Regions from separate parts of the Homo sapiens genome. Here all the other regions are reported to be linked to region 6. The links are microRNA targets in miRTarBase. Many come from high-throughput screens and were not tested one by one. Region 6 holds a microRNA gene; each other region holds the end of a gene's coding sequence.
The links. Region 6 holds the annotated microRNA hsa-miR-3156-3p (CUCCCACUUCCAGAUCUUUCU, at 2,665-2,685, opposite strand). A microRNA usually pairs through its seed, bases 2 to 8, with sites in the 3' UTR of a target mRNA and lowers its output. Matches are read on the target gene's strand: a 7mer-m8 pairs with bases 2 to 8, a 7mer-A1 pairs with bases 2 to 7 and ends in A, and an 8mer does both.

Region 1: the mRNA of HLA-DOB is a reported target of hsa-miR-3156-3p. The part of its 3' UTR that is shown has no 7-base or 8-base seed match.
Region 2: the mRNA of ARHGEF26 is a reported target of hsa-miR-3156-3p. Seed matches in the 3' UTR shown: 8mer at 1,907-1,914.
Region 3: miRTarBase lists MTA3 as a target of hsa-miR-3156-3p. Seed matches in the 3' UTR shown: 7mer-m8 at 822-828.
Region 4: the mRNA of ALDH1A2 is a reported target of hsa-miR-3156-3p. Seed matches in the 3' UTR shown: 7mer-m8 at 3,504-3,510 and 7mer-A1 at 2,447-2,453.
Region 5: miRTarBase lists MRTFB as a target of hsa-miR-3156-3p. Seed matches in the 3' UTR shown: 7mer-m8 at 1,633-1,639.
Region 7: the mRNA of PRDM4 is a reported target of hsa-miR-3156-3p. Seed matches in the 3' UTR shown: 7mer-A1 at 1,919-1,925.

What each region holds. Positions count from the first base shown.
Region 1 is chr6:32,809,910-32,813,969 of GRCh38, reverse strand. HLA-DOB (major histocompatibility complex, class II, DO beta) reads left to right here. Exons shown (of 6, transcript NM_002120.4): 4 at 137-247; 5 at 499-530; 6 at 719-1,207. The coding sequence ends at 754. Among named protein-coding and RNA genes, the nearest start is that of HLA-DOB, 5.1 kb to the left of the region's middle.
Region 2 is chr3:154,254,864-154,258,918 of GRCh38, forward strand. ARHGEF26 (Rho guanine nucleotide exchange factor 26) reads left to right here. Exons shown (of 15, transcript NM_015595.4): 15 at 468-2,962. The coding sequence ends at 610. Among named protein-coding and RNA genes, the nearest start is that of DHX36, 68 kb to the right of the region's middle.
Region 3 is chr2:42,752,680-42,756,747 of GRCh38, forward strand. It overlaps MTA3 (metastasis associated 1 family member 3), which reads left to right. Exons shown (of 17, transcript NM_001330442.2): 17 at 695-4,068. The coding sequence ends at 720. Among named protein-coding and RNA genes, the nearest start is that of OXER1, 9.4 kb to the right of the region's middle. RefSeq lists enhancers at 3,365-3,935, 3,936-4,068.
Region 4 is chr15:57,951,461-57,955,528 of GRCh38, forward strand. ALDH1A2 (aldehyde dehydrogenase 1 family member A2) reads right to left here. Exons shown (of 13, transcript NM_003888.4): 13 at 1,969-3,809. The coding sequence ends at 3,737. Among named protein-coding and RNA genes, the nearest start is that of ALDH1A2-AS1, 110 kb to the right of the region's middle.
Region 5 is chr16:14,261,085-14,265,152 of GRCh38, reverse strand. It overlaps MRTFB (myocardin related transcription factor B), which reads right to left. Exons shown (of 17, transcript NM_001308142.2): 17 at 1-4,068. The coding sequence ends at 3,709. Among named protein-coding and RNA genes, the nearest start is that of TRT-CGT2-1, 23 kb to the left of the region's middle.
Region 6 is chr10:45,162,679-45,166,746 of GRCh38, reverse strand. MIR3156-1 (microRNA 3156-1) reads right to left here and starts at 2,733; the gene lies at 2,659-2,733. It also overlaps the pseudogene ANKRD30BP3.
Region 7 is chr12:107,730,819-107,734,886 of GRCh38, reverse strand. PRDM4 (PR/SET domain 4) reads left to right here. Exons shown (of 12, transcript NM_012406.4): 12 at 365-2,016. The coding sequence ends at 677. Among named protein-coding and RNA genes, the nearest start is that of PRDM4-AS1, 3.7 kb to the left of the region's middle.

The DNA of each region.
Region 1 (4,060 bases), not on the chromosome of region 6:
CGAAGAACCTTTTCTAAATTTATTTATTTTTCTCTAGCTAGCATTGGATTTGGTGTCTAGTACAGATTCTGGGATTCCAAGAAAGTGCTTTAAATATTGGGATATTTTTACTAATTTAAAGACCTGTTTCCCATAGGAGCTCAGTCTGAATATTCTTGGAGAAAGATGCTGAGTGGCATTGCAGCCTTCCTACTTGGGCTAATCTTCCTTCTGGTGGGAATCGTCATCCAGCTAAGGGCTCAGAAAGGTAATGAGCCTGTGAGGAGTGCCCTGCCACCTGTCCCAGACCTTCCCCACTCCCACCTTCCCTAACGTCAATGATCTGAGGCAAGGAAAGCTGATTGTGCCTCTCAGGGATCACCGGGATAATTTTTTTCTGAAGCTAGAAATGGGATAAGCAGAGAGAGTGCTGACCTTGCCAGCCATTTGTTCTTCCCTCGGGATAATCATATTGGGTCCTAATTGGGGCAATCCATTCTTTTCTCGATTTCTTTCCAGGATATGTGAGGACGCAGATGTCTGGTAATGAGGTAATGTCTCTTTTTCCTTGTCTTTGAGTGGCAGATCATTCTCCCGGTTCTTTGGCCAGAGGGAGATGACATGGGGGTAGGGAGGAGTAAGGTTGCTGCTGTCTGGATGGGACTGTCCCCTGAGTCTCTGGAACGGCTGTGGGGGGTGGTGAGGCTGCCTCCTGAGACCTTCATCACTGTGCCTCCAGGTCTCAAGAGCTGTTCTGCTCCCTCAGTCATGCTAAGGTCCTCACTGAAGCTTCTCTCTCTGGAGCCTGAAGTAGTGATGAGTAGTCTGGGCCCTGGGTGAGGTAAAGGACATTCATGAGGTCAATGTTCTGGGAATAACTCTCTTCCCTGATCCTTGGAGGAGCCCGAACTGATTCTGGAGCTCTGTGTTCTGAGATCATGCATCTCCCACCCATCTGCCCTTCTCCCTTCTACGTGTACATCATTAATCCCCATTGCCAAGGGCATTGTCCAGAAACTCCCCTGAGACCTTACTCCTTCCAGCCCCAAATCATTTACTTTTCTGTGGTCCAGCCCTACTCCTATAAGTCATGATCTCCAAAGCTTTCTGTCTTCCAACTGCAGTCTCCACAGTCTTCAGAAGACAAATGCTCAGGTAGTCACTGTTTCCTTTTCACTGTTTTTAAAAACCTTTTATTGTCAAATAAAATGGAGATACAAAAAATGTACATTTTAGTGAATTATTTAAGAAAAACCCCTGTAATCAAGTCAAGGAACAGGACTTTGCCAGCTCCAGCGGAAGTCTCTGTACGTCAGGCCAATCAAAGCCTCTCCTTCCCCTCGAAAGTGACCATATCCTGATTTTATTGTAACCTCTTTCATGTCTTTGTAGTCTAGTCCCCCAGGTATGTGTTCCTGGACGCCACAGCTTAGTTGTCTTTTACGTCTCTCATACTTCACTGGTTTCTCCCCCATCAGCCTTTTTTTCCCCCTTATGATTAATCTGTTGAAAAGCTCAATCCATTTGACCTGTAGAGTTTCCCACACTCTGGATTTTGCTGGCTGCGTACACATGGTGCAGTGTAACACATCCTCTGCCTTCTGTGCCTCCCGCAAATTGGCATCTGGATGCAGAGGCTGGATCAGACTCTGGTTCAATCTTTTCCTTTGGAAAATCTATACGTGGTGTTGTGGCCTTTCACCATGAGAGACATAATTTCCAGCTGTTTCTTTTTGTGATGTTAGCAACCATTGATACTAATTGCTTAGGTCTGTTAATTTATTGGGGATTGCTAAATGGTGGTATTCTGTCATTTTTTCTTCATTTATATGCTTTATTAATGCTACAAAGAGACAGTTCCCTTCATTTACTAGTGAAGAGACACTTCCCTCCACTTACTAGTGGGCTACTTAGTGGTACAGTGGAAAGGCAGGATCAGTGTTTGACTCTCCTTTTATTTACCAGTTTTCAAGTTAGCAAATTGGTTTCCTACTATTAATAAAACCTACAGATGGCCAATCAGGTTTTACTTTTCATTCTTTAAATAATTATAAACAGAAGGATTTAAATGTTTGATAGGTTTTACTCTATTGCAATTTTTATGCTTGTTAAAGCTTATATCCTACATTTTTGGTGAGTGAAAACTTCTTCAAGTGGCTAAAAATGAAACTGAGTTCTTTTGACGCAAATTTCTTTTGATAATTTCTTTGTTATCTGGGATGACAACATGTTTCTGGTTCATCTTGTTCATTTCTTGGCCAGACCTGGAGGTAGCCATTTTTCCAGAAATCCCTGGTTTAGTTTAGTGGGAAATGACATTTAAGACTATAATCCAGCGTTAGGGTGTTTTGTCCCACTGAACCCGCTGCTGGAGTCACCTCAAAAGTGGCGTCAAGGGAGTTACCACAAGGAAGTTCCTGAAACCATTCTGAGATGGTGTGGGTTAGGATTCAAAGAAAGAAGCACTAAATGCCAGGGTGATCAGTCCAAAACATTTGTTTAGGGAATTTACCTACAGAGGGCTTCAGGAGTCCTTGCAGACAGCAAGAGAAAAGGGATGTTCTGCCTAGGTATGTCTGCAGCGAGGGGGTCAGGGTATGGAGCTTATATGAAGGTTTAAGGAACCTGGCTCAGGGCTGGGACAAAGTTTCAGTGTTTAGAGAAACAACCTAGATACGTTTATCAGTGCCTGGGAGTGTTCAAGGCCTTGGCTTGGGTTCGAGCCTGCTGGGAAAAACCTGCAGCTGGCTGGGTCACAGAGGCATTCTGTGATTTTTCGGTCAGGACATGGAAAGAAAGCAGGGAGAGGGGCAGTGGGGGAGCCTAAATAGATAGGAATGGTCATTGTGTCCAGCCTGTTCAATGGCAATAAAACATTTATACATGTATACATTTAAAAAAATCAGTCATCCAGGCACGGTGGCTCACGCCTGTAATCCCAGCACTTTGAGAGGCCGAGGCGGGCGAATCACGAGGTCAAGAGATTGAGACCATCCTGGGCAACACGGTGAAACCCCGTCTCTACTAAAAATACAAAAATTAGCTGGGTGTGGTGGCACGCGCCTGTAGTCCCAGCTACTCGGGAGGCTGAGGCAAGAGAAGCGCTTGAACTTGGGAGGTGGAGGTTACAGTGAGCCAAGATTGTACCACTGCACTGCGGCCTGGTGACAGAGCAATACTCCATCTTAAAAAAAAATCAGTCTTCTCTATATTACTTCTGCATCTCCTTTCTTTTATACCAAGAACTCTGGTTTTCAAGGACACAGGGACAGACACAATTAGAATGTCCATACTTATTTGCTTTTCCTGAGTTAACATAGACAGCAGTCTAAGGATAATAACACTCATACACAACCACCAAAATGGCTACTGAAAACGGTTGAAATTCTTTTTACCTACATTCTCCCTATTACCTGTGTTCTCCCTTTTTACCTATGTTCTCCCCCGCTTTCTAGTTGAACTATGTCTATATTAGTTGATCCTGTACCATTGCATAGACTACTTGCTCCCTTGTTAGTCTTAGTTCTGTGAGTAGAGATATGTTTAATGCTCACCATCATTCCTTATGTTGATATCCCTGTCATGTGGTGGTTTTCAAGGTGTGGTCCATGGATTCCTGGGGGTCCCTGGGACCCTTCAAGGGGCCTATGAAGTCAAGCTATTTTTGTACTAATACTAAGATGTTATTTGCCTTTTTCACTGTATTATTTACATATTGGTACAGAAATCTATGGTGGTCACGTGAAACTGTTAGTGCCTGAGCACAAATCAAGGTGGTGACACCAAGCTGTACAGGTAGGTCATGTTCTTCACTGCCATAAGCTTACAGTAAAAAAAAAAAAAAAAAAAAAAGCAAAAGCCAGTGACCTTGATGAAGCAATAAAATCATTAGTTTACTAAATTTTAAACCTCAAGCACACATCTGTTTAATAGTCAGTGTAAGAACATAGGCAGCATTTCTGGTGCATACTGATGGAAAGGCAGTTGTCCTGTGGAAAAGCCATTATGTAATTGCATGAGTTGTGAGTGAAGTTAAACATTTTTTTTTTAGTGGGTCATCATTTTCCTTGAAAGAATGACT
Region 2 (4,055 bases), not on the chromosome of region 6:
ATGCAGAGTGCTATAGACCCGAGGAGTGTCATTTTGTCATCATTGCCCATATTCCAAATCTTGACATGTTAATGTTTGAGATCACATATATGTACTGTCTTCTCATCTCTAAGGCTAAACCATGACGTTTTCTTTTTTCCCCAGTCCCTCAGTGACCCAGTTCTTATCTCTAAATATTCGTCCTTTCAAAAATAGCATTCTTCCTGCTATCCTTTACCCAAAGCATCTCCTTTCCCAGCTCAGCCCAGGTTCAAATACTCTCAGCCTTCTCACTTCAGGGCCTCTGCTCACGTTCTTTCCCTGCCATGTCATTCATTCCCCCTCGAAAGCTTTCCCTGTCCCACTTTCTCTTCTCACCGTAGCACTTAGCCTGGGGAGGGATGCTGCCTCTCAGCTTTTTCATATCCTTGGAGCCTGGCACACTCCAAATACTTGTTGTTTGGTGTGGACTCTGTTCTTTTTCACAGGCTGGTATGAGGGGGAACGACTACGAGATGGAGAAAGAGGCTGGTTTCCTATGGAATGTGCCAAGGAGATAACATGTCAAGCTACAATTGATAAGAATGTGGAGAGAATGGGACGCTTGCTAGGACTGGAGACCAACGTGTAGTCTCTCAGATGGTCTTTTGTTACTGCAAGATTTGCACGACACTTACCGGGCTGGTTGGTTCTGGGCTAGTTTTATTGTTAATTTTGTCACAGCCTATTTAATTAAAAGAACGAAAACACTTGCCTTTAAGCTTGCCAGGTTGTTCTGCTCTCTCATGAGAAGAGCTTGGATACAGTGAGTTTGCACAGCTCAGTTTTTACCTAACCACACACTTGCAGACCTCCTGAGGTACACAGAATAGCTGAGCAGTTCACTTCAGGGATCAGGTCATCTCTGCTCCTCCTAGTTTCACCATGTTCTGGCAATAAAAAACACATATTATATCCTGGTTTTCTCTATCCTTGCATTACTAAGGTGACTGTCTCTCTTTATACATCCTTGTATGGTTCTCCCAGTATTAGCAAGATTGTATATCTGTAAAGAATGTCCAGTTTTGTAAATATTTCCCTGCCTTTTTTTTTCTTTTTTTACATCTGATTTTAATGCTTCGTTAACTTCAAAAGGAACTGGTAGAGTTCAGAAGGTGAGCTGTTGTTTTTCTAAACCTCTTCCCAGGAAGGGGACATTGACACTTGAATTTTTGTCACCTTTTTCCTCATTAGAAGGAAAGTAGAAAGCCTTACTTTAGGATTTTTAAAAAAAAATCCATCTCACCCCATATTGTTCTTAAATAAGTATAGACTAATTAACCTAAGCTACCTTTAACAACGTAGAATTTAGATGGGTTCATATATGTGAGAAAAACCTGAATATAGGACAGGGGTCCTACTTTTTTCCCCACCTCTGTCGCCCAGGCTAGAGTATAGTGGTGTGATCTTGGCCCACTGCAACCTCTGCTTCCTAGGTTCAAGTGATTCTCCTGCCTCAGCCTCCCAAGTAGCTGGGATTGTAAGAGTATGCCACCACGCCCAGCTACTTTTTGTATTTTTAGTAGAGACAGGGTTTCATCATGTTGGCCAGGATGGTCTCTTAACTCCTGCCCTCAAGTGATCCACCAGAGAGGAGATCCTCGGCCTCCCCAAGTGCTGGGATTATAGGCATGAGCCACCGTGCCCAGCCTACTTTCTAATTAATTAAAAAAAAAAAAAAAAAAAAAAAAAAACCTTCCCAAATGAGCTGATAAAAAACTGACGTGAGGCTGCTTTGCCTTCAATAATACCTAGTTTTCAGCTGTTCCAACTCGTTTCCAAATAGAAATTAGCTGGAACACACTACAGTAATCTCAAGGAAGGGAAAATTAGGCCTTAAAAGATACCAAGAAGTCAGCATGGTACCCAATTGAAACCTTTTGACCTTAGTGGGAATTCATTCTATTTGCACTAAAAGCCTTAACTTGCTGTATTCAGAGTCCCTCTTAACTGTGAGTTTCTATAGAACTTTACTTTTTCCACTAGTGCACAGAGAGAGAAAGGTTATCTTAATAGTCGGTTTCATGGAGATGAAGGATGGGAGATTAAGAGGGGGGAAATGATTTTTACTGGCAGCTATATTCCCTCTCTGTTCTATTTGCTTTAACAAAGGGATAAAACCTGGCAAAGTGTACATTATTGGAGGACTCAAATCTGTATGTGACATGTCCCAACTACTGTCCGCTAACTAGTTATCCAAATTGTAAAGCTACAGAAGCCCAGTTGAGGGGTAAGTGTGCCTGGCTCACACAGCCTGCACCCTGTCACCTCGGCAATGAGCCAGTGTGGGGCACTGGGGACTTCTAACCCTTGGATTGCTCTTTTTGACCTGTGCATACCTTCTAATTGTAAAATATATTTCAGACCGTGAGTACCTTGAGATCTGAGCAACTGTGTTAATGAAGTAATAGCAATGGTCCACAGTGAAAGATGTGTTGGGGTTTGCAAAACAAGCATTCCGTCACCTCTTTAATAATGTCACAGACTTTTTAAAAGAGAGGCTATCAAGTTGTAATATAATCTGTCATGTTTTATTTAGGAAGGAAGGTAAATTTGTGCTTGCACGGGGATCATTTTGTATTATTTTTGCTAATACCCAGTTGAAGCTAAAAAGCAACTATTTGAATCCTGTGAATTAATTTATAAGAATGTTAAACAGCTTTGGAAATACATGCATCTTATGAATCATAGCCTTATTTAGCAAGATCAATGTTAAAGTGTTGTTATATGGCAAGTATTTAACACATTCACAGTGTTTGTTTGATTTCAACTGTGAATTGTCTTAAGTTTTTTCAAACCTAGTTGTTTCTATGGACACCTGCTCTGAATTGTACATTGACTTCATTACTAAAGAACAAAAATGTTCATTTTTGTCCCAGTAAATTGAGACTGCTTGTACACTTTCAGAAAAATATGTGAATTTATAAAGATTTTGTAGATACTTGTCCTTTTGTGCTGGTGTGATTTATTTTACTCTAGGTTGTTTTCAGTTAAGTATACAGTTTCCTGGGTTTTTGGCCAAATCAGAGCTCTATTTAAAAGGTATCTGTAGCTAACATTTCAGAGGACTAATCTTTTCTCTTTGGGTACATGCTGGCATCAGCTGCCCTAGAAGACTAGAACATTTTTAGGAGATGGGTCATGCTGTTTCTTCTCGTAGTTGGCATAAACCTGCAGGACTAAATCGCTTATCTTACATAGTGCACAGTTCCCTTATCCCCTGGAGCATATTCTACCATTCATTTGGTCACCTCGTATCTGAACCCTTGTGTTTGTGAAATTTTACCACCTTGTGAACCTTGGTAGAAGTAAAAAAATGACTTCCTTGACATTAGTTTTTTTTTTGCTGCATAACAAATTGCCACACACTTAGTGGCATAAAACAATACCCATTTAATATCTCACAGTTCTGTAGTCAGAAGTCTAGAATAGCATGGGTGGGTTCTCTGCTTAGAGTTTCACAAGGCTCTAAGTGTTGGCTGGCTGCTTTCTTACCTGGAGCTTGGTGTCTTCTTTCAAGCTCATTTCTGTTATTGGCAGGATTCACGTCCTTGCTGTTGCTGAGCTGAGGTCCTTGTTTGCTTGCTGGCTGTGAGCTGGGGGCTGCTCACAGCTTCTAGAGGCCCTTCATATCCTCGCCACAGGCTCCTTCCATCTTCAAAGCAGCAATGGCATGTTAACTCCTTTTCTCACTTGGAATCTGTTTGACTCCCTCCTAGGCTACCAGCGGGAGAAAACTCTGCTTTTAAATAACTTCTTACATAATTAGGTTAGACTCATGAGATAAGTCCCTTATGACACTAACTCAAAATCAAATGATTTGGGACCTTAATTACATCTGCTAAATTCCTTTGCCATGCAATATAAAATAATTATGGATGTAGTATCAGGGAGGGATATTGGGGGACATCTTAGATTTCTGCCTATAACACCTTCTATAAAACCTTAAGATGTTTGAGGCTTAGAGTTTCCAGCATCTCTTGCAGCTAAGATACACCTAGCTATGTGATAGGAAACAGCAATCAGCTACCTCTATC
Region 3 (4,068 bases), not on the chromosome of region 6:
TATGATGAGCTCAGATGAGATCGTGCCTCCTCCCAGCCAACTGTGTTCCCTATTCCTTAGTATCCGTCAGAAAAGTTCCATGAGTCTCTTCTCTTGCCTGGTGTACTGTAGCACCTCTCCAGTGACCACTAAACCCGCCTATTCAAAACCCAGCTTTTAAGATCTTTCCGTCCTTCAGTATCAATTATATATTTTATTGGCCCTAATTAAACTTTCCCTTTGATCCAGTGTTAAACTACATTGTGAGCCCTTTTTTTTTTTTTCAGACAGGGTCTTGCTCTGTCGCCTGGGCTGGAGTGCCGTGGTGCGACCACAGCTCACTGCAGCCTTGGCTTTGTGAGCTCAAGCAGTCCTCCCCCCTCAGCCTCCTGAAGTAGCTGGGACTACAGGCATGCACCACCACACCTGGCTAACTTTTTATTTTTATTTTGGTAGAGACAGAGTGATGCTATGTCGTCCAGACTGTCTTGAACTTCTGGCCTCAAGCCATCCACCGGCCTTGGCCTCTCAAAGTGCTGGGATTATGGGCATGAGCCACCACACCTGGCCTAGTCATGAGATTTTCTTTGACCTACTGCTGAGCCTCCTTTCCCTGAAGGTTGTGATGTTGGGAGGGGTGAGTCCATCCTCCCTTTCATCTTGCCTCCACCATCGGGACTTGTTTAACCTTCACACTGTTACTTCCCTTTTCTAGAACTCACGTGCTGTGTGTCAGACTGAGCTTTCCCTGATTCATTCTACAATCCAAGACTTGCTGCACTGTCCTGCTGATGTTCACAGCCGTGCCTGGGAAGAAGGCAGCCCCACTCCCAGTACATTTCAGTGGGAGACCTCTGCGTGCATCCATGGAGACGCAATGGGGCGGGGAAGGAACTGTGGGAGTGCACGTTCCAAATCCTGTGTCTCCACGTGTGGATCAGCAGCACCTCGCTTTCTTGTCAGAGACCTCGCTGTTACGGAGCGAGACCTGCTGAGAATTGAGGGGCTGAGGGAACCCCTCCACCTCCTCCCTTCTGCAGCGCCCTGCGCCCCACCCAGCAACAGCGGCCACTTGGCAGTGGGGCTGCTGCAAGCTCAGAGCCGCTGCCACCCTGCATGTGTCCGCTCAGCTCGGTCTTATGCTGTATAGTTACTAAATATGTACAGGAGGGCCATGGCATCTTTCTGAATGGATTTTTCTTAAGAAATGCGCCAGTGTTTATGAGGTTCAAGGTATTTCCCTGTCCTTGCTGTTACCGTCACTCAGCTTTTTCTCGATAGGCTTCATCCTTGTTTTTTTGAAATGGGGGAATTTGCTGTTTACCCTCTGCATTCCTATATGTGACCCTCCCTCCTACTCCTCCAAGGAACAGAATTACCGAGGTTCTGACAAAAGATAAGCCTGTAAACTCATCATCTGTGTTTTGTGGTTGGAGAGAAACTGGTGTTCTGCCCGGCTCTGCTTGGTCACAGACAGCTCCAGCAAGAGCAGTTGTTAAAAGTGCCAAGCGTGTGTATCACTGTGACAAGCCGTTTGCTTACTGCCCTGTTCCCTTGCAGCCAAACCAGCTGATGAAGAACTGCTGCCAGGTGGGTCCTACAGCAGGTCACAAATGACCTAGTTTCATTTTAAGCAGACAGACTCTGTTTGGCCTAGAGGTGTGGAGTGAGAGAACTGTGTTTGTGGGTATGAGTCTGTGTGGCCAACCCCATGACCCCCACCCCTCCAGCCCAACATCTTGTGAGCACATGTGACCTAGGCCCCGGGGGACCTGCCTGCTCCTTTGGCTTGGGCTCTTCGTGTTTCCCACCTGCCCTCGGCACGAGCCCTTGGTGGCATCACAGTTGGCCACTCAGCTGTGCTGAGTAGCTGTGCTACTTGTGCTGGCAGCTGCAAGGATAGGAATAGCTCAGCGCCCGATGAGCTCCCTGAGCAGATGTGAGGCTGGCAACTCCCCTGCCCTCTGTTTGCAGGCACAGGGTCACAGTCCCAAGAAAGACAACTGGAGTCTGATCTCCCAGCCATCTCTGGGGTTACTAGGAGGCAGCTGGATGGCAGATACGAGAGGCCCAAATAGCCAAGCTGTTGCAAGACAGAGTGGCTACAATTGAATTGACACCCTGGGAAGCACGAGGTAACTTGGTAAGGATAATGATGCTGTAGATGTCTGTGTCCTCGGAGGCTGAGCTCCGCTTGGCAGAGAGAGCGTGCTGTGTGAGGTGGAGGGCGGTTTTGCAGACATCTCAGCTTCTTTTCTGAGGAGGAGTTGGTTCTCATCTTAGGCTTCTGCAAGGGCGAGCATGGGATGTCTCCACCACCACCCACTCTTGGAGCTGTGCTGGGTCTTGGCTTGGGGCGCTGAGGGTGGGGCCTGTGTCAGAAGCATTTGGTGAGAGGGGTGGAGGTGGCAGGCAGGGGTTCTCCTCAGGGTTCCCACTGAGGGGTCCCTTCAGCAAAGACCTGGGAGGAGGTGCCGCATCACGTGGATGTTTCTTCCCTAAAGAAAAAGACACAGGAAAGCTGTCTGTCTGTACCCTGCTCTGGATTTATTGTCGTACTTGGACCCAGAAGGGGAAATGATTCCCTCACCCTTTCACTTTCTCTCTGAACCCCTACTAAGTGGTGACTGCAGATTCTGGAAACAATTAGCTGCCCGTGACTCAGCTGCCAGCTTCATTTTCTCTGCCTTTTGGGAGAGGCCCTCTCACCCAGGCCCAAGAGATTTGGAGACAGGAGTCAGGCCAGGTCTGAAGCAGGAGAAGGGAGGCCCCTCCTATCTACCCAGTTGACATTTGGCTTTGGGAAAAGCGCAGCTTGTTCGAGCCACGTGTGCCAAGCAGGCTTTTCCTTCCTCTTGTAAGTAAAGCTCGTGGTTCTGTAGTCCAGTCATCCTAGGAGGGTGATGTTGACTGAGACTTCACGCTCTCCCTTTGTCTCTGGAAACTGCCCCCTCGTTCTGACAGAATCCCCCAGGCAATGGAGGAAGGGTGCCGAGGCGCCTCTAGTCTGTGCCTTTGCCGTTGGAAGCATTTGGTGCTGAGAGGGTTTCCCAGCCACCCGCTCCCTTTCTGGGGCCATGGTGTCCCTGCTGTGTGTCAGTGGCATGTCACTGTGGTTCAGTGAGCACATGGGTGGACGTGCAGAGACTGTCTGCGCAGCCCCCAGCAGACATGCCCCTGGGGTGAGGACACAGGCTCTGCAGGCTATCTCCCCCTCTGGCTCAGTCATCGCCTGCCCACCCTTCACTTCTTAAAGGTGCGCAAGAGAGGAGGGCCGACTGGAGGGTGTCGCCGGAAGGTTTCAGCCTGCCCTTCACAATTCCCCTTGTGCACAGCCCAGTTTCCATCTCTCAGGGCCCACCCAGGAAAATGGATTTCAAGTGGGGGTTTTCATCCAGAGATTTGTTTAACACAAAACAAGAAAAGCTGAGAGGCAAAACAGGGGAGTGAGGGGCAACCCAGAGGTGGGGAACAACAACAGCAAGCCGCCCCCATCCTGAGACTGGCTGGGCACCAGGGGAGGACGCGTCACCAGAGCCTGGGGCCAAGGCCACTGGGGGACCTGCCACACTGTGGACCTGTCTGGTGGGGGCTGGAGCCTCGAGAAGCCATGATTCTTGTCAGAAACATTTCCCCAGGCAGAGAGAGGGGGCCCCAGCCTCTCCCCTCCTCTTGGCCTCCAGAGTCCTGCAGGTGCCTCACAGTAGTGAAACCCAGTTGGAAGCAGCTGCCCTGGGAGCCTGGGACAGGCGACCCACCGGGTCAGTCCCCTGCCACTCAGAGCAGAGCAGGGGGCTGAGGGCAAGCAGGTGGGGCTGTGCGTGGCCTCAGTGCACTCGGTGTCATGTCTGAGCCTGGTGTTTATGCCCCACTGCTGTCCTAAGTCCCTGGCGAGGGGAGGTGGAGGAGCTGCCCCGTGGGTGTTTGGAGATTCTGTTTTACTCTGCCTAGAGAGGAAACGGCTTTGGGGAGGGAGGGGGAAGCCTTTATTCTTTACTGTTGTCCCTGTTTTCCTTTGGGGGAATTTACTCAGTTAGCAGCCCCTCCTCACCATTCCCCCCAGGAAGGCCATGTCCCAGTTTTCTGTCC
Region 4 (4,068 bases), not on the chromosome of region 6:
TATGTCCTGCCTGGTGGTGGGGGAGTCTGTGGGACGGCTCAGGATGAGGGCCTGCCACTGCAGGGGCTGTCCTCAGGCACGGGGGAGGCTACATGGCTCACAGCTTAGAGCAGGGTACTGCCATCACCCCTCCCAGCTAATGCACACCATCAGCTTCTACTTCATCAAGACAGAGATCAAAAGCCCCTAATGCACGGGCTCCACACACCACCCTCTACTTCTCAACCCCTTGCTGCCTGTGCTCCTTGACTTCTCTGCCTTGTTTCTGGGGTGTTAACACCTGTAGAGCTTCCCTCCTATTTCTCTGACTACAGCCTCCATTTCTTTTGCTGGGCTTTTTCTCCCTGGCCTTGGTTTTGGTTTTATTTTCACCCTCTCTGGATCTGCAGCCATCACTTTTATGTTCATGTGAGAATCTGGTCCACCTGAGCCAAGTCCGAATCTCCCATCTGCAATTGCCTGCTTGAGATTTCTATCTGGATGTCCCTTCATAACCCCACAATTCACGTGTCAAAAGCCTGAAGTCAAGATCTCTCCCCACAACTGCATTTCATGTTGTAGCTTCTTTGGCAGGGGCATTACCATTTTCCTACCTTCCCTGGTTAATAAACTTTTTCCATTCTATCATCATATTCATTCCTTAAGTTCCAGTAACTTCTCCATTGATTTGTTCCCTTCCTCTCCATCCCCCCTAGCATTATGCCATCCATAGTTTTATGGCAAACAAACTCTGTAATCAGTCTCTTTTCATCCGCTTTGCTCCAGACCAGTATACTCCAACCACTGCTTCCATTACACTCCAACTCAAAGCCCACGAGTGTCTCTGTTTTCTATTACATTACTAGGGAACAGCTCTGGCTGACCTAAGACCCTCTGTAGTCTGACTAGTTGCCAGCATGCAGTGCCTGCTCTTGCCAGCCCATCTCTTCACTGTCACATAAATATGCCGAGCTTGGCCTCTCCTCTCTGCCTTTGTAGGTTATTCATCAGAAATGTTTTCGCATGTCTATCTGACTCCAGATTCCTGCTATCTATACGTGCAACAATGGCACCTTTCTAAAAGACTTTCAAATGATTACTTCATGTCCAGGCCTTTCTCATTTTTTTCCTGATGGCTCAATGGACAGAACATGAGGTGGATTGTCAGGGAGTCCCGCATCTTATATTTCAGTTCCATCTGGTGCTGCAGGGGCTGCATTCTCCCATGCTCCTTCTGTTCCTCTAAAAAATAAGCTACTGGCAAACAGAGCAGTGAACCCCAGTCCACAGCAATGCTTCTTGTCCCCCAAGCGAGATCTGCTCTGGGGCTAATTCATTAGGTTTAGCTTTTGTCTCACTTGATCGGAACTTGGGTGGAGATTCCAAGGGCTGGAAGGAAAGGTGGGGAGCTGTGCGGTTCTAAAGGGTGGGAACCACTCCTCAAAAGCGCAACTCTGAGAACACACTGAGAGAAAACAAGCTCAATCTTGGTAGTAGTACGGTCACCATTTACAGATTTCTTTTTACAGCTGCAAAAATATTCCATCAGGTTATCAGCCTCTGACTTCATTTCACTTTGGTAAGTAAGTAAAAATAAAGCTACTGTGAAATGCCATCAGCAATGTGAGCTCACGGCGGGTAGTCCACGTTTGTGAAAACAGACCCTATAGACTGCTCTGCATTTTAGTTTTCATGGAGGCTATTCTAAAGGAAACTTGTTATTTCATATATTTCATATATGGTTATACTTACATGCCAGCTAAACTACACATGCACACAGATTTTAAATAGCATCAGAAAATAAGGTTTTTGTTTACCTTAATACCATTTACCAGTTGCCTTAATGAATTCTGTAAAAATACCCTTGCAGGCTTCTGCTCAGTTACCCAAGAGGGCAACACAGCTGAAAAACCCAGCAGCTGAGGAAGGACCCAAAGAGACTCAGTATGACCCAAAGACTTACAGACACAGCCAAACAATCCCAAGGAGTACACAATATAAATGCTTTATTGCTAGCACAGAGGTTTCTTTTTAAGTAAATTAAAAGAAATAAATCTTCATTTTCACATTTTTTGTTGCAGTCCAAAGGTAACTAGTTGGTTAGTGGCTATGTCCACTTGGACACATGCTACAGGAGGGCAGCATTCACATGGAAGCACTCAGAAATACGGCATCTGTCAGGGCTCACGGCACTGGGCTGCTGAATGCACTGTCGTTTGTAAATAACAGCAAGTGGAGACTTTAAAACATCATGGATAGATAAGAGTTATAAATAGAAAACTGGTACGGTTAAGAAGCAGAAGATCGTTAAATACAGAAGGCTATATATATGTTGCCCATATTCCACATACTCTGGGTTATGTTTGGTACTTTTAAATAAATGATCTGCATTTAGGTTAGAGACTGGATTGGATTTGACAGCTGGAAAGATGGAAGAAGGGATGGAAGAAGGAAAGGAAGCTAACACTTCCCACATCAAACTGGTGGAGTCACTGGAAAGCAGAAGAGGAGTATGTGGATGGGAAGAAAGGGAGGCGGGCCTGCTTTACTCCCTGCAAGCTGTAGGCCATGGCCTGCCCAGTGAGGGGCAAGAATGGGGTGTGACAGAGGAGCTCAGTGGAGCACGGCAGTCCTGGCACAATGGAACTTGGCAAATGGAAAAGGAAACCCCTAGGCTTGGCCAGATTTTCCAAGGTCACTGCCAATAGATACAGGGCACATTATGATAGATGTACAGTGTGACAGACCAAAATCACACCTGCAGCAGTTATTGGTGTAGAGGTTCAGAAGGTACAGATTCCAACTACAGAAATAATTCATTTAATAATAATTGTTGCCCAATATTAGAAACTGAATGATGTCTGCAAGGCATCCAGCATTATCAAATTCTTGGGCCTACTCGGATTGTTTTTTGGTTGGTTCTAAGAAAAACTTTGGAAAAGATCTTATCTAGCTATGAAAAACAACCCACTCCTTGCCTTATTCCAGAATAACTGAGAAGGAATCTAATACACACACACCCCAAAACTGCAGCAAGCTCAGAAGCGGTGAACTGCACATGATGACTTCCAGTCTCTATTGTCCCAATCTTTTTTCATTCATGTTATTTATGGGTAAAAGAAAACCAGATTGGGTCAGGAATATCCCAGGTTCTTACTACATCTGTAGTGTACCAGCTCCTGGCATTTTCATTCTGGTCTGACTCTAGCTAAAACCATTTCATGTTTTGCTTTGAAGAAATGGATAACATGAAATGATAATTTGGCTTTACAACCTTGAAAAATTGTTCCCGGCCCAAACATCTGCCCCAGAATGAGCTCAGCTGACATCTCCTTGGAAGAGAGGGAGGGGTGGGTGAGCGAGGAGGGCCTGGAAGGAGGAAAATGAAGACAGGAGAAAGGTCACCTTTCCTTGAGAGGAAAGTTCTTTGTGACAAAGACATGAAATAATACAGCTCCCTTATTTCATCCTGTGCTCCAGAAGGAGATACTGGATGTGTCTGCTAGCTCCTCCTCCTCCCTTTATCCCACTTTCCCCAATATTTGGTATGATTAAGGTGGCCCCTTACAGAGTGCCAAGAAACTGTACCCAGCTGGTTTGCTTTAGTTGTGCAGTGACCTGCCTGGCCTACATGTTATCTTTTCAATCTTTAAGTAAGGACCGTGGCTCAACTTTGTATTCCTGAGAGCTGGGCCCTACAGAGAAAGCAGAGAGGGACAGACGTGCAGGCTGGGCTTCATCCTCCTTCTTGGCCTTCTTAGGAGTTCTTCTGGGGGATCTTTACTGTCACCGTCTTAACTTCTGAGTACTCCCGCAAGCCAAATTCTCCCCTGAAACACAGAAATGGGCCGGGTCAGATACCAGAAGTCCAGGGAGCTGCATGTGAGTGCAGCGGGAGTCCTGGGGAGGTGCAGTTTATCACCTGCGAACAGCAAGTCCTGGGATGTTCATGTAAAAATTCCTCACGTATGCGCAGCCCAGCCTTCCTCTGAGGGTCAGAGAAACTGTCATCTCATGAGTAGTTTTTAAAGAAGTTTTTTTAAAACTTTAAAGTTTTTTAAAGTAGTTTTAAAGTTAAAAGGTGACTTG
Region 5 (4,068 bases), not on the chromosome of region 6:
GAGCTCCCCACCTGAGTGACAGCCAGGACTTCTGTGAGGCTACCGTCAGGTGGGTGCATGGAAGCCAGTGAGGATGTATACTGAAATGTGGGCTTCTCACAAATATTTTAAACCCTGCCAAAGTGCTTTACCACGTCTCTAAGGCCAAGTCCATTTGAGGACAGTAAAGGGACTATCTCATCACTTGTGGGGATAGCTGTTTTGTCAACTGCTATGGCTGATTTCAGCCTGGGAATTCTGAAAGGACTGTGAAGAAAGCTATGCTGCCTGGAATGATCTGGGGTTGAGGGTCCAGGAAGCCTGAGTCAGCTCTGGTGACAAAATAGGTAGTGCGCCCCTGAGCCATCACTCAGGGTATGCTGACTGCACAGTTCAGAGGTGCTATCTCATTACTATGACTTTGCCTTCCATAGGCAGCAGCTTGCAGGCAGCACCACCCTGCCTTTGCCACTGTTTCTAAACAGCACTGAAAGCCAAAAAGTGTCAGTTACATGGATCACAGAACCATGCGGCTTTTAAAAAGGAAATTTAAATAAGATCTCTTTTAGAATTACAAAAATATTCATATGAAACAAACACAATAGTATCTAAGCAAGAAATTCCACAAATTCAGAATACATCTATGTACAATTATGTGGCAATACTATACAGTAGATTGCACATTTCAGGAAAAACACTAGAACGTGAACCACTAACACTGTCCTATGAGGTTTCCTAGTGGATGCTTTGCTGAAATGTACAAGATGACCACCTACTCCTAGACTTTCAAAGACTTTACAGAAATTTTGGTATAACTTTTAAATTCATCCCACCCCCAGTAGGATGATCTGACTATCTACATACAGCAGAAAGGTAAGGCTGGTACTACTGTGTTTTGAGAACATGTAGGAAAGTAAGATGGGGATGTGAGATAATGCCTTTCTAGGAGTTATTTTCTTGGCAGTATGATACTTTACAATATGATATACAACAGTACCACTGCTTAAACCACACACGTGCATAATGAAAATTCAACTGGCGACTTTGACTTGTGCTGTAATGGCTGTGACACTAACCTAAACAACAACAACAACCAGTCTTTAGTCAATATCCACCCTTCCTCATTGCACTCACCATCACACGCACTGAGTCCGGTCAGAAGGGCCTTGTTTACAGAGTATCATCTTTGGTCATGTCACATGAGTGTGAGCACATAGCGCGTCCTCACTCCAACCTGGAACATGTAGTGGAGATCCTGGAGAGCAGCACTCGTGTCACAGGTGCCTGGCTGGTGACCCAAGCCAGGAGAGAGGAGGGTCAAGCGGAATGGTGCAAGTGGAGTGGCTTGCAGAGTTAATGGGTAGAGATGCCTTGTCTTTTTAAAAGTGAAATACTGGTTTATAAAGGTTTAAACACATATGTGAAGTGGGCACTTTAGCAATTCATAGGAGAGTAGGCCAATGAGATAGCATTTTCTTGCACTGCACTGTGTATTTTTGGAGAGCAACCTTCCTGTGGCATGTTTCAAACCCTATTTTAAAAAGCAATAAAGGGACCCGAGAGCTAGAAAACTATCTACACAATTCAGGATTATGGAAATATAAAGTTATTCAACGAGAGTCAATGGTACTAGTGTTCGGTTACCTTCTACAGTCCCACTGATATTTGGTGCTAATTTAATAAGCCATTCAAATCTGAATGAAGAAGATGCTCAGGGTCTAAGTATGGACCTGATAGGCCCAGACAGAAACCCTCAGCAAAAAAACTGTGGCCAAGAACTGTAAGAAAAATACTTTCCCAAGTAAATAGCCTGGCCCTGGAGACAGGCCCCTCTCAATGGAACTGACTCGAGGATTCACAGAACATCTAGTGTGGTAAACTCTTGTAGGGCTTGGTCAAATGACGGTGTTCTGGTTAACAGAGAGTTATTGTATCCCGTGTGTTGGTTTACCAATTTCTGAACACTTAAACTATTCATCACAGACTACACTGAGCACAGTGGCCTCTGCCTTGAACCGTCTGGAAGGCACATGAGCACTGTTAGTGCCTTTGAGTCAGGAAGTGCCAGTGAGCAGAGGGCTCCAGTGTGCTCATGCTGGAAAAGCAGACTTTTGTTACACGTAGTAAAATTTATAAACCACACACACACAAATCAGAAATAAGATCAGCTCTTAGGCAAAACACAAACCCAGAAATAATTCACAAATTCTTTCCAAATAACGGGTCAGGCTGCCTCCGGCATGTCAGTATGGAACATTTACCATTTTGTGACCCAGGGGAACCAACCTGACCTGAGGGTTTACACAAGGGTGAGGTGGAGAGCACAATATTATTATTTAAGAAAAATCTCCATGCTCTTTTGGTAGATTTCAGTTTTTTGTTATTTACATTTTGTCATATACCTCAATGACTAGCTTGAAATAATCCTGTGATAGTTGGCATTTTAGAAAATTCTTAAGAAATGACTTAACACATATGTAATAACTGTTTTCTATATAAAAACACTAATAAAGCCTCCAGTTTTTCAATCTTAGGCTTGACAATATAGTGAGAGCTCTGGTAGAATATCCAGTTACAAGCCTGTAAAATGATAACCAGGGTTAGTGACAGAAGAAAGAGGGCCAGGGCAGGGACGTGGAGGCCCACCTTGTGGCACAATCTGACCTGTACTCATCATGGGAATGTCCTGGGTAGATGACAGACCTTCCCCTTACCTTCCATTCTTCTAACTCGCCAGCTCAGAAAGATATTTCATGCTAAAGCCTTTTCTTGGTTCTTTGAGATGGGTCTGGTTACCTGAAAGTTAGTCAGCAATTCTTTAAATACAGAAATACATGTGGCTCAAGTACTCTAGAAATATTCGAGCTATTAAAAAAGTAGGACCTTGGATACCCATTTCCTTACCCCAGCGTAGGCTGTACAAATCACAATGTCAGAGCATACATACAAATGTCTAATATATACATTAAAATCAATCTAACCAACCCAGAAGGTTGCTAATAGAATTTTCAGTGTTATCAGTATACCTGGACTTCTGACAGTATTTTGTAGGTATCTTCTGTTTATGTTGAAAGATCTTGCATTTAAATTTAAATTTGGAAATATAAAGTACGATTCCAAAAAATCACAAAATAAACTACAACACCAAAAAAACGACACAGGTTTCTGAATAGAACCAAAAGTCTTCAGCCAGAAGCTGTCACTGAACTGGCCAAGGCTCTCCACTGCCTTTGACCTCTGCTGTGTCTTGGGCCTGGCTCCGGCCGTCTCTAGGAAGTACCAAGTGCAGTGACCTCTCACCTCCCTCACATCAGCCTTAGTTTTTGAGTGGAGCTGTCTGCCTTTTATTTAGGGTCTTAAAGTGACCAGAGATTTAAATGTAGTTAATTACCAGAATCCTAACGTCACTGTGCTGCATATATTACTCTTCTTTGTTTTTATCTAAAGGTACTTTTCATTCTTTACTGAAGTCTGGAGAAATAGATGAGTCGTCTTTGACAAGTGCGATTTTCAGAAGGCCCTGTGCTATGTTAAACTGTAGAAATTCACTACTGAACACAATGAAATGTTTTCAAACTTGGGTTCCAGGCTATGACCTTCCACCTATTCTTTCTGTGACAACATATTTTGATTGCAACAATGCAACTATAGATCTATCTCTAAAAACTGACCTTTTAGAATCTTCATGTTCTTAAACCTCATCAACTCTCAGAAAAGAAATCTGTGACGTTAGTCCCATGGCAGCGGTAGGTCCTGTGGGTCTAGAAAGTCAGCAGAGAACATGCTCGGCGCGGTGGTGCTGAGAGGAGTGAGTCCTGAAGAGGAGTTGGGCATGGTAATGTCCAACCACTCCATGTTGTCCAAGTTTGAGTCTGACAGGTCGAGAGACAGACAGGGAGTACCTGCAGCAAACTGGGTCTCGGAAGTCTCCATGGGTGAGTGTGAATGGTCCAGCATACCTGAGTGACTCAGCAGATCATTCTGGAGGTCCTCGATCAGAGAGAAGGGCTCTCTGTCTTCACTGCTGCTTTGTAGTGGAGGAATTTCATTGGCTGAGGGTAAAGTTCCATCCAAGAAAGCTTCTAGTTG
Region 6 (4,068 bases):
ATTTTTTTAATCTAAACTCCACTTGGAGGATATAGTGTAACCTTCTTTCCTGTTTACTACATACCTCTGATTTATTGTCTTATTTAAGACATATTTTCTCAAGATAACTCACATGAATTTATGCATTCTAAATATTAAAAGAAAATATACATTTAAGCCATATTTTGGAAATGCATTAGATTTTATTATAAGATATATTATGCATATTATCTTACTTGTAACATTTCATTACATAAAAATTCATTTTTCTGCTTATTTATTCACATTGAAAACTTTTAAAACTCTTTTTATAGGCAAGACTGTATTCTGGGTACACTAGGCTGCACACAAGTATGTTTTCTAACCTGCAGTATCTTATAGTGATGCAAGAACTTCAAAACGATTATTTAAACAACTCAATACAAAATCTTCCAAAATTTAAAATTTTCAAATGTGATAAAAAATCTTTTAACAATATGTTTAAAAATTGCAATTTAAAAATTCTGAAATTAAAATTCTACCATATGCTTAGTAAGATTCTCTGCTTCCATACACTGGTTGTTTACTTGGGGTAAAACCTGCATTCTTCATTGAGATGAAGAGTGTAAAATATACTTTTAATGAAATAATTTAGAAAACACACTGGCATGCCTTAATAATACAGACTCTGAGAAAGAGAATTTACATTTCTAAATTTCTACAATTATTTTTTAAAATTAGAGATAGGCCGGGCATGGTGGCTCATGCCTGTAATCCCAGCATTTTGGGAGGCCGAGGAGGGTGGATTACGAGGTCAGGAGATCGAGACTGTCCTGACTAACAAGGTGAAACCCCATCTCTACTAAAAATACAAAATAAATAAATAAATAAATAAATAAAATAAATTAGCCGGGCATGGTGGTGGGCACCTGTAGTCCCAGCTACTCAGGAGGCTGAGGCAGGAGAATGGCATGAACCCAGGAGGCGGAGGTTGCAGTGAGCCATGACCGTGCCACTGCACTCCAGCCTGGGTGACAGAGCGAGACTCCATCTCAAAAAAATAAATAAAAAATAAAATTAGAGATAAGGTCTCGCTATGTTGCCCACACTGGTCTCAAACTCTTGGGCTCAAGCAATCCTCCTGCATCAGCCTCCTTGGTAGCCGGAACTACAGGCATGTACCACCATGCCCCCAAAATTTTCACAATTTCTAATATTATTTTGGTGTAATTAAAGAACCAAGAAGAGAAACTGAGAAAAAGCTCTCTCCTAAAAACTACATGATATCAAAATAATACGTGCAAAAAAAACCCTATATGCTATGTGGCACAGTTTTGGAACTGAACAGTATCAGAGAGATTCCTTGATTACTATAGTAAGTAACTGGATCCATTAAATATAAATTTAAGCATGAGTTTTTTAAGTGACAATAGAATAATTTTAAAAGTCACAGTAAGTACACTTATCCAAATAAACCTTTACCAGATTTTATATATTCTGTATTGTGGAAAAGTTTTTTCTAATATAATGTTCCTATCACTATGTATTCTCCAGTCCATTCCTTTTGTTGGCACTCACACCCTCAAAATATTTACCAATCATTTGTTATTTACTAAAGTAAAAAAAAAAAAACGTTAAATCAACTACTCATATTTCCATAAAATGTTTTTATCTGACCAACTTTATATTACCAACATGAAATAATGGTAATTACACCACTGCTAAACATGAAAAGTAAATACTATACAGAACTAGATTCCAACTGAGAAAATCAACTTCACAAGAGACCATTTTACATTGGTAGCAAGATTAAAGTCTTCCTTAAGTTTTGTAGACTGTGAATTTTCAATAGTCAGTTTGCTGAACAGATTTTAGAGAAAAAAAGATACAACAAAAATAAGCAAATTCATATATTTAAAAAGAAAATCTGCTAGTTCATATCTTGGTGCTCACTCCAAAAAATGAAAACAAAAACCAAAATCTGGGAAAAATCAGTCTTTGTATATTAAATCATGCTTCTTGGTATAATTAAAATATGCCCTCTGTTTTTAAAAAAGATTTTAGTTACCTATTTTTGACTCTACCTCCCCAACCTATAACATCCAATGAAGACTGACTCTTAGTTCCATAATAAGTAGTGACAGCCAATATAATTGGCATACCCTGAGTATAATTCGTCCTCACAAACTGTCCTTAATGATTAACTGAAAATCTACTTAATGGCTGACATAACTTTTGATATCTAAACTGGAACAAACTTGATAACCTAAAATGAGGTAGAAAGATACATTTACCTTGTTTCTTCTCCATTATCTATCTCTGATTCAAAGACTAATCTGTGTCACTGGAAAATGACATTCTTTGTTTTTCAGCATAAAAACCACTTAAGAAGGCCCTGTTGCTTCCCTTCACCCTAAAACACTGCAGAGAGTGCCCTGAAATATTTGAAATGTTGAAAAGCTGAACCTACAAATGTCAAAACACAAATGTATATTTGTTATTGGGAATGTTTTTCTCAACAAAAATTGAAACATTAAAAATAATAAAATCTAATTACTTATTTTGTACTTGTCTTTCCTTATTCAGGTCTACATAAACTAGAAAAGCCTTAAAAATCTTCATAGGTACTTATACCCAAGGAGAGAGACTGCTAGAAAAACTGAGTCCTGATAGTTGGATTTCTCTAAATACTATATTTACACAGAGAGAAAGATCTGGAAGTGGGAGCCACTATATATAGTAAAAGTGTCTCCCACTTCCAGATCTTTCTTCTGCAGAGCTTCATGGCAGTCTCCAACCTTTAAATATTCTGCTCATCAAAGCACAGATTACTGAAAAGATAAACTCAATGACCAACCTAGAAGCTCTGTATTTACCTGTTCCTGGAAAACAACTAAATGGAGTCTCAGTCAGTCATTCACCTCCAGCGTAAGCATGTTATCAAAAACCCAACTGAACCATGACTTATTTGACAGCCAATCTTACCCCTGCTTTACATGTACATGGGTAAGACATCAGAGGCTTGGAAAAAGAGGCAAAGGGGAGGGGACACCTGCCCTGGGCCACAGATCTATGTAATTCAGCAACCTTCAATCCCCTAGCACTCAAGGGGCTCTAAGCCACTCCTGTGAGATTTGGGGTGAAAGAACACAATAGGACATTTCTATCTGCTTGCAGAGAATTTTTGCAGTGGCTTTTTTTTTTAATCTTTCAATAGAAAGCATGAAGTGTGTCCATTTCTCCAATTAAAGAAGCGAAAAAGCAGCGACCTATTCAGGACTTCCTTTGAACCCTATTTTAGTATGAGTTTCTAGATAACTCCCAATGTCATCTGTGTTTTTGTTCCTCTAATTTATCTTCATCAAACTTGTCATAAGATCCAATATTCTGATCTCTTTGGTAAAATCCTTACTCCTACCAGTCCTGGGATTGTTTCTCTTCAAACTTGGCCTTTCCCTGGTAATTCCATTCTTATCTACTTCCACTGGGTTCTCCAGCTAATTCCATTCTTATCCCTTTCCATTTGTTTAATTAGACCCATTCCCTTTTCTTTCTATTATTCAAACACTCACTCACATGATGTTATAAAAACAAGAGTAATGGGCTTTGAAATGAGTTTAAATATTACTTCTGCTACCTCTGATATTTAAATAAGTCACTTTGAGTTTCAGATTCTCCATCTGAACAACCATTTTTCCAGGATATTAAATACAGATTGAAATATGAAAGTATTTTGATTAGTCTCCAAGAGTCCTTACAATCCTAAAATTCCATGTGCTTTTAATTTTAGCTATAGAAAAATGGGGCTGGTGGAAAGAATAAAATCATACACGAAAAGAACACCGAGGAAAGCAGAGAAGAAAGTAACCAGGAAAAGACTATAGAAAAGTCATGGAAGAAGAAAAAAGACTCTAAAAAAAAATGAAGAGTGCATGCAACTAGGCAGGGTACTGCTTTGAAGAAAAACTAAACTGGGAAGTCAGTAAATAGAGAAATCTATAAGAAATAGCCTCTAAATATGATTAATATAACATATCTATATGTAGATATTCTCCACTAAGAGTAAAATAATTCATCTATAGGATTCACCAGGTCTTGCTTATGAAACAA
Region 7 (4,068 bases), not on the chromosome of region 6:
TAAGTTGTGGTGTATTTGTATATTTGTAAATAGTATACAGCAGTGGAAGGGAACAAACAACTGATACAGCAGCTTGAATGAATTTTATGAGCATCATACTGAGAGAATGCAGCAAGACAAAAGAAATACATATAGAATTTACATAGAATTTGAGAATTTACATAGTATTCTAAAACAGGAAAAATGAGCCTACACTGTTTTAAACTATACATGTTTTATGAGTCTTCTGTATATCACCTATGCAAAAGCCTGATTCAGAAGGATAGAGCTGCTCTGACAAAGGCCTGCGGCTATGAAGAATAAGTGTTGCCTCAGTTGTTATTTGTAACCCCAAATCAAATGTTTTTTCTTGTGTTCCTCTTAGAGAACGCCAGATCAAGTGTCCCAAGTGTGATAAGCTGTTCTTGAGAACAAATCACTTAAAGAAGCATCTCAATTCTCATGAAGGAAAACGGGATTATGTCTGTGAAAAATGTACAAAGGCTTATCTAACCAAATACCATCTCACCCGCCACCTGAAAACCTGCAAAGGGCCCACCTCCAGTTCGTCAGCACCAGAGGAGGAAGAAGAGGATGACTCAGAAGAGGAAGATCTAGCAGACTCTGTGGGGACAGAAGACTGTAGGATTAACAGTGCTGTGTATTCAGCGGATGAGTCTCTTTCTGCACATAAATAAAAGGAAAAGAAACAAGCAATTTTGGATGAAAATGCAAATGGAAAAATACACATAACCAGTTATCTACTATAATGGTTTTTATATAAAATGGTTCCTGATTTATTTTCAGCCAGTAATCAAAACAGACTGGGAATGAATAAAGCACTTACAGAAGAGTATCCTAATGAAAACACTTTAAAACAGATTGGGAAAACTGAGCATGTGTCCTGTTTTAAGTGGTGGACTGGGAGGGAAGTGTCAACTTCTGAGGTCTTTATTTACATGATAATCTGGGAGATGCATTTATGCCTGAATCAAAGCTGCCTTCTGCTCAAACAAATCAGATTTATTTCACATTCTTCCATTATTCCATTTTCCTGCTGGTCCTGTGACTTGGTAACATTCTAAACGGTCCTTGCCCCATAGCCATCCTGATTGCTGATAGTGTTTTATGCAGACTCTTGTGACTTATACTCACCACAGAATGGATTGGGACACAGCAGCATAAGTGTGCTACTTGGCAGCTAGTAAGTTTAAAGCAGGACCTGCCTTAACTGCTCCTGGCCACTTGGAAGTTTAGGGTAGATCTTGTTTTCCAAAGTTTCGGCAGGTGCCTGGAGGGCAAATAAAAAAGCAGCAGTCAGTCAGTAGTCAGTGATGGAGAGAACAAGAGGAGAGATGCCTGGCCTCTGCCCAAGAAATTAGCTTTGATGGAAGCCTGAGCAAGTCACCTGGTTATTGTAACGTGGAGATCTTTGTAGGTTTAGACATGGCTCCCTGTCTCCAGTAAACATCCAGCCATTCAGACAAAGGGGGCCTGGAGATACAGAGAGCCCAAATAATGCCTGCTGGATTGTCTCCTGATGAGTACATGTGGACTCACCTGAGGAAGGGAAGGAAGGGAATAATCTTTTATGTTTCATTTACCTTATGAAAAGTGTTAAAACATTGCCAACTCAAAATAACATTATTTAATGCATGTGCAAAGTTAGGTCTTCCCAGTTGTCTCAGTGCTGAGGAACCTCATCAGAGAAGCATGGAAGATGCCAAAGGATTTTTGGAAGGTAAAGAAGGCTGAATAGTGACCACATGGGCCTGTTTTCAGGGTCCCAGCTTAGTTAAGTCACCCATGCACCTGGTCATTGTGTCTCCCATGCACATCCAGCGTTTCTCAGAAGCAGACCCACCCTTAAGTTGACAGGATTGATGGAACATGCTCTCCTGCTCAAGGCACAACCTCTGGGCTGGAGTAGAGGACTCTGGTGGGAAGGTTTTGCTGCTAATGTATTTATGGAATGAATGTATTTCATTCAAATCTGTATTCCTCTAGGAAGGATTAAAATTAAACTTTTTTAAAATACAGGATTCCTCTGGTAGTCTCATTTCATGGAGGAAGGAGATGAGTGAGTCTTCTAGGGAAAGTCAAGTACAATTTGAATCTTTCTGAGGTTAGAAGAAGAGAGCATTTCTAGAGTATTTTAGCTTTTGAGATCATATTCTTATTGTTTCTGCTGTTAGTACTTAAGACAAACTGCTTCCTGTGCTTCCAACCCTCTTCTGCCCTGTTCCTGCCTAAGGTATGCCTTTACTCTGTTACCTCCTTGGAGAAATGTGGCAGGTCTGCAGTGGAGGGTTGGGGGATGTGTTGCGGATGGTTAGGGTTGGCTGCTGACACTGGGTCGTGACGCCTCCCTCAGGGCAGCTCTGGTTCCTAGGGCAGCTTCAAACTCAGCATTTTGCCAAAGGCATCCAGCTGGCTGGTTCCCCCATACCCAGGAAACCACTGGTACTGGGACTCTAAGCTCCCTTTCTTCCTTTATCTCAGTAGCACACACTGGGTTCACTTCCTTCATTCCCAAGACTGAAATGATGCCCAAGATAGTTACGCCTAGTGTCAGAGGAACACAAACAGCAGAGGAAGCTTGGAAACCTTTTTAGTGAAGTTGTAGCTGTTAGTGCTTAGTATTTACAACTGTCTCTCCATTTTTTTACCTCTTAATTTTAAATTCTAAGTCATTTTCACAAGATGAATAAATAAGTAAGTGCCCTTTGACATGAATGTTTTCAGCCTTTTCTGCCCATTTTGGGTGGCCTTGCTGCTGTTGAGTAAATGGTCACGGTGAGAGGCAGGATGTGTATGTAGGCTCTGGAGCCCTGCAGAATGTTCTCTAGTGTGGGCTTTGCTGTGTGATGAAGGTTTGTAACCTTGGCCAAGTTATGTAAGCTCTCTATGCCTCTTCCCTTAACTGTAAATGGAGAGTATTAAGAGCGCCGCTTCATTATACTGTTTAGATGTTAAGTTCATACGTGTCAGTGGCTCCCACAGTGCTCAACATAAACAGTAGCTGATATTCTTTAGTTTCCCATTAGTCTACATTTTTCATTTTAACATAGGTTTCTACACTAAAAAAAATTGACATATAGAATATCCAAGAAGCTCTAGATTTTAGTAATATAAATAAAACTGGAATAATTTGAGTTTTCAAGGCCAAAGCCTATAAACTAGTTCAGAGTATTCTTGCAGCTCACTGTATGCTTGGCATTTCCTTCTCAAAAAGGTCAGTGGCTCATAATCCTGGCATTTTTGTTGTGCTGAGATTCTCAGAGGGCAAAGAGGTAACAGGAAGTAGAGTCTTCGTCAGCCTTTTCACGCTTGACCTGTGTCCCCGCTTTCTAGTAAACACTCCTTTACCTGTGTCTCAAGAAGCATAAACATGCCAGAGGCTGTCAGCACCTCATCAAGTATGTAAACTTGATGATCTGATCACCAAACTTGGAGGCACACACTAAGGAATGACATATCTCCATATACACAAGTGATTATGGTCTGTTACAGGTGAACACACCGCCCCCTGCCAACACCACCAGATTCATATGGTGAAGTCCTAACCTCCAGTAATCTCAAAATGTGATTGTAGTTGGAGATACGGTTTTTAAAGAAGGAATTAAGTTAAAATGAAGTCCTTAAGTTAGGACCTAACCCAATATGACTGGTGTTCTTAGAAAAAGAAAATTTGGACAAAGCCTTATACAGAGGGAAGATGATGTGAAAACAGGGAGAAGACATTTCCAAGCCCAAGGAAAGAGGCCTGGAACAGGTCCTTCCCTCACAGCCCTCTGAACAGTCCTGCCATTGCTTTGATCTCAGACTTCCAGCCTCCAGAACTGGGAAACAATACATTTCTGTTTAGTCTTCCCGGTCCATGGCAATTTGTTGTGGCAGCCCTGGCAAACTAAACAGTCTAACCAGATATACGTTCTTGATAATGATTGCTTAAAGGGGAGCAGCTTCCAGTATAGTGACTTCAGTTTAACCCCAGCTTTACAGATTAGCATGAGCAATATAAAGGCAGGCACCATTTCTAGTGGTGTATATTGCCGCCAGCAAATTTCCCTACTACTGAAAGGGGTG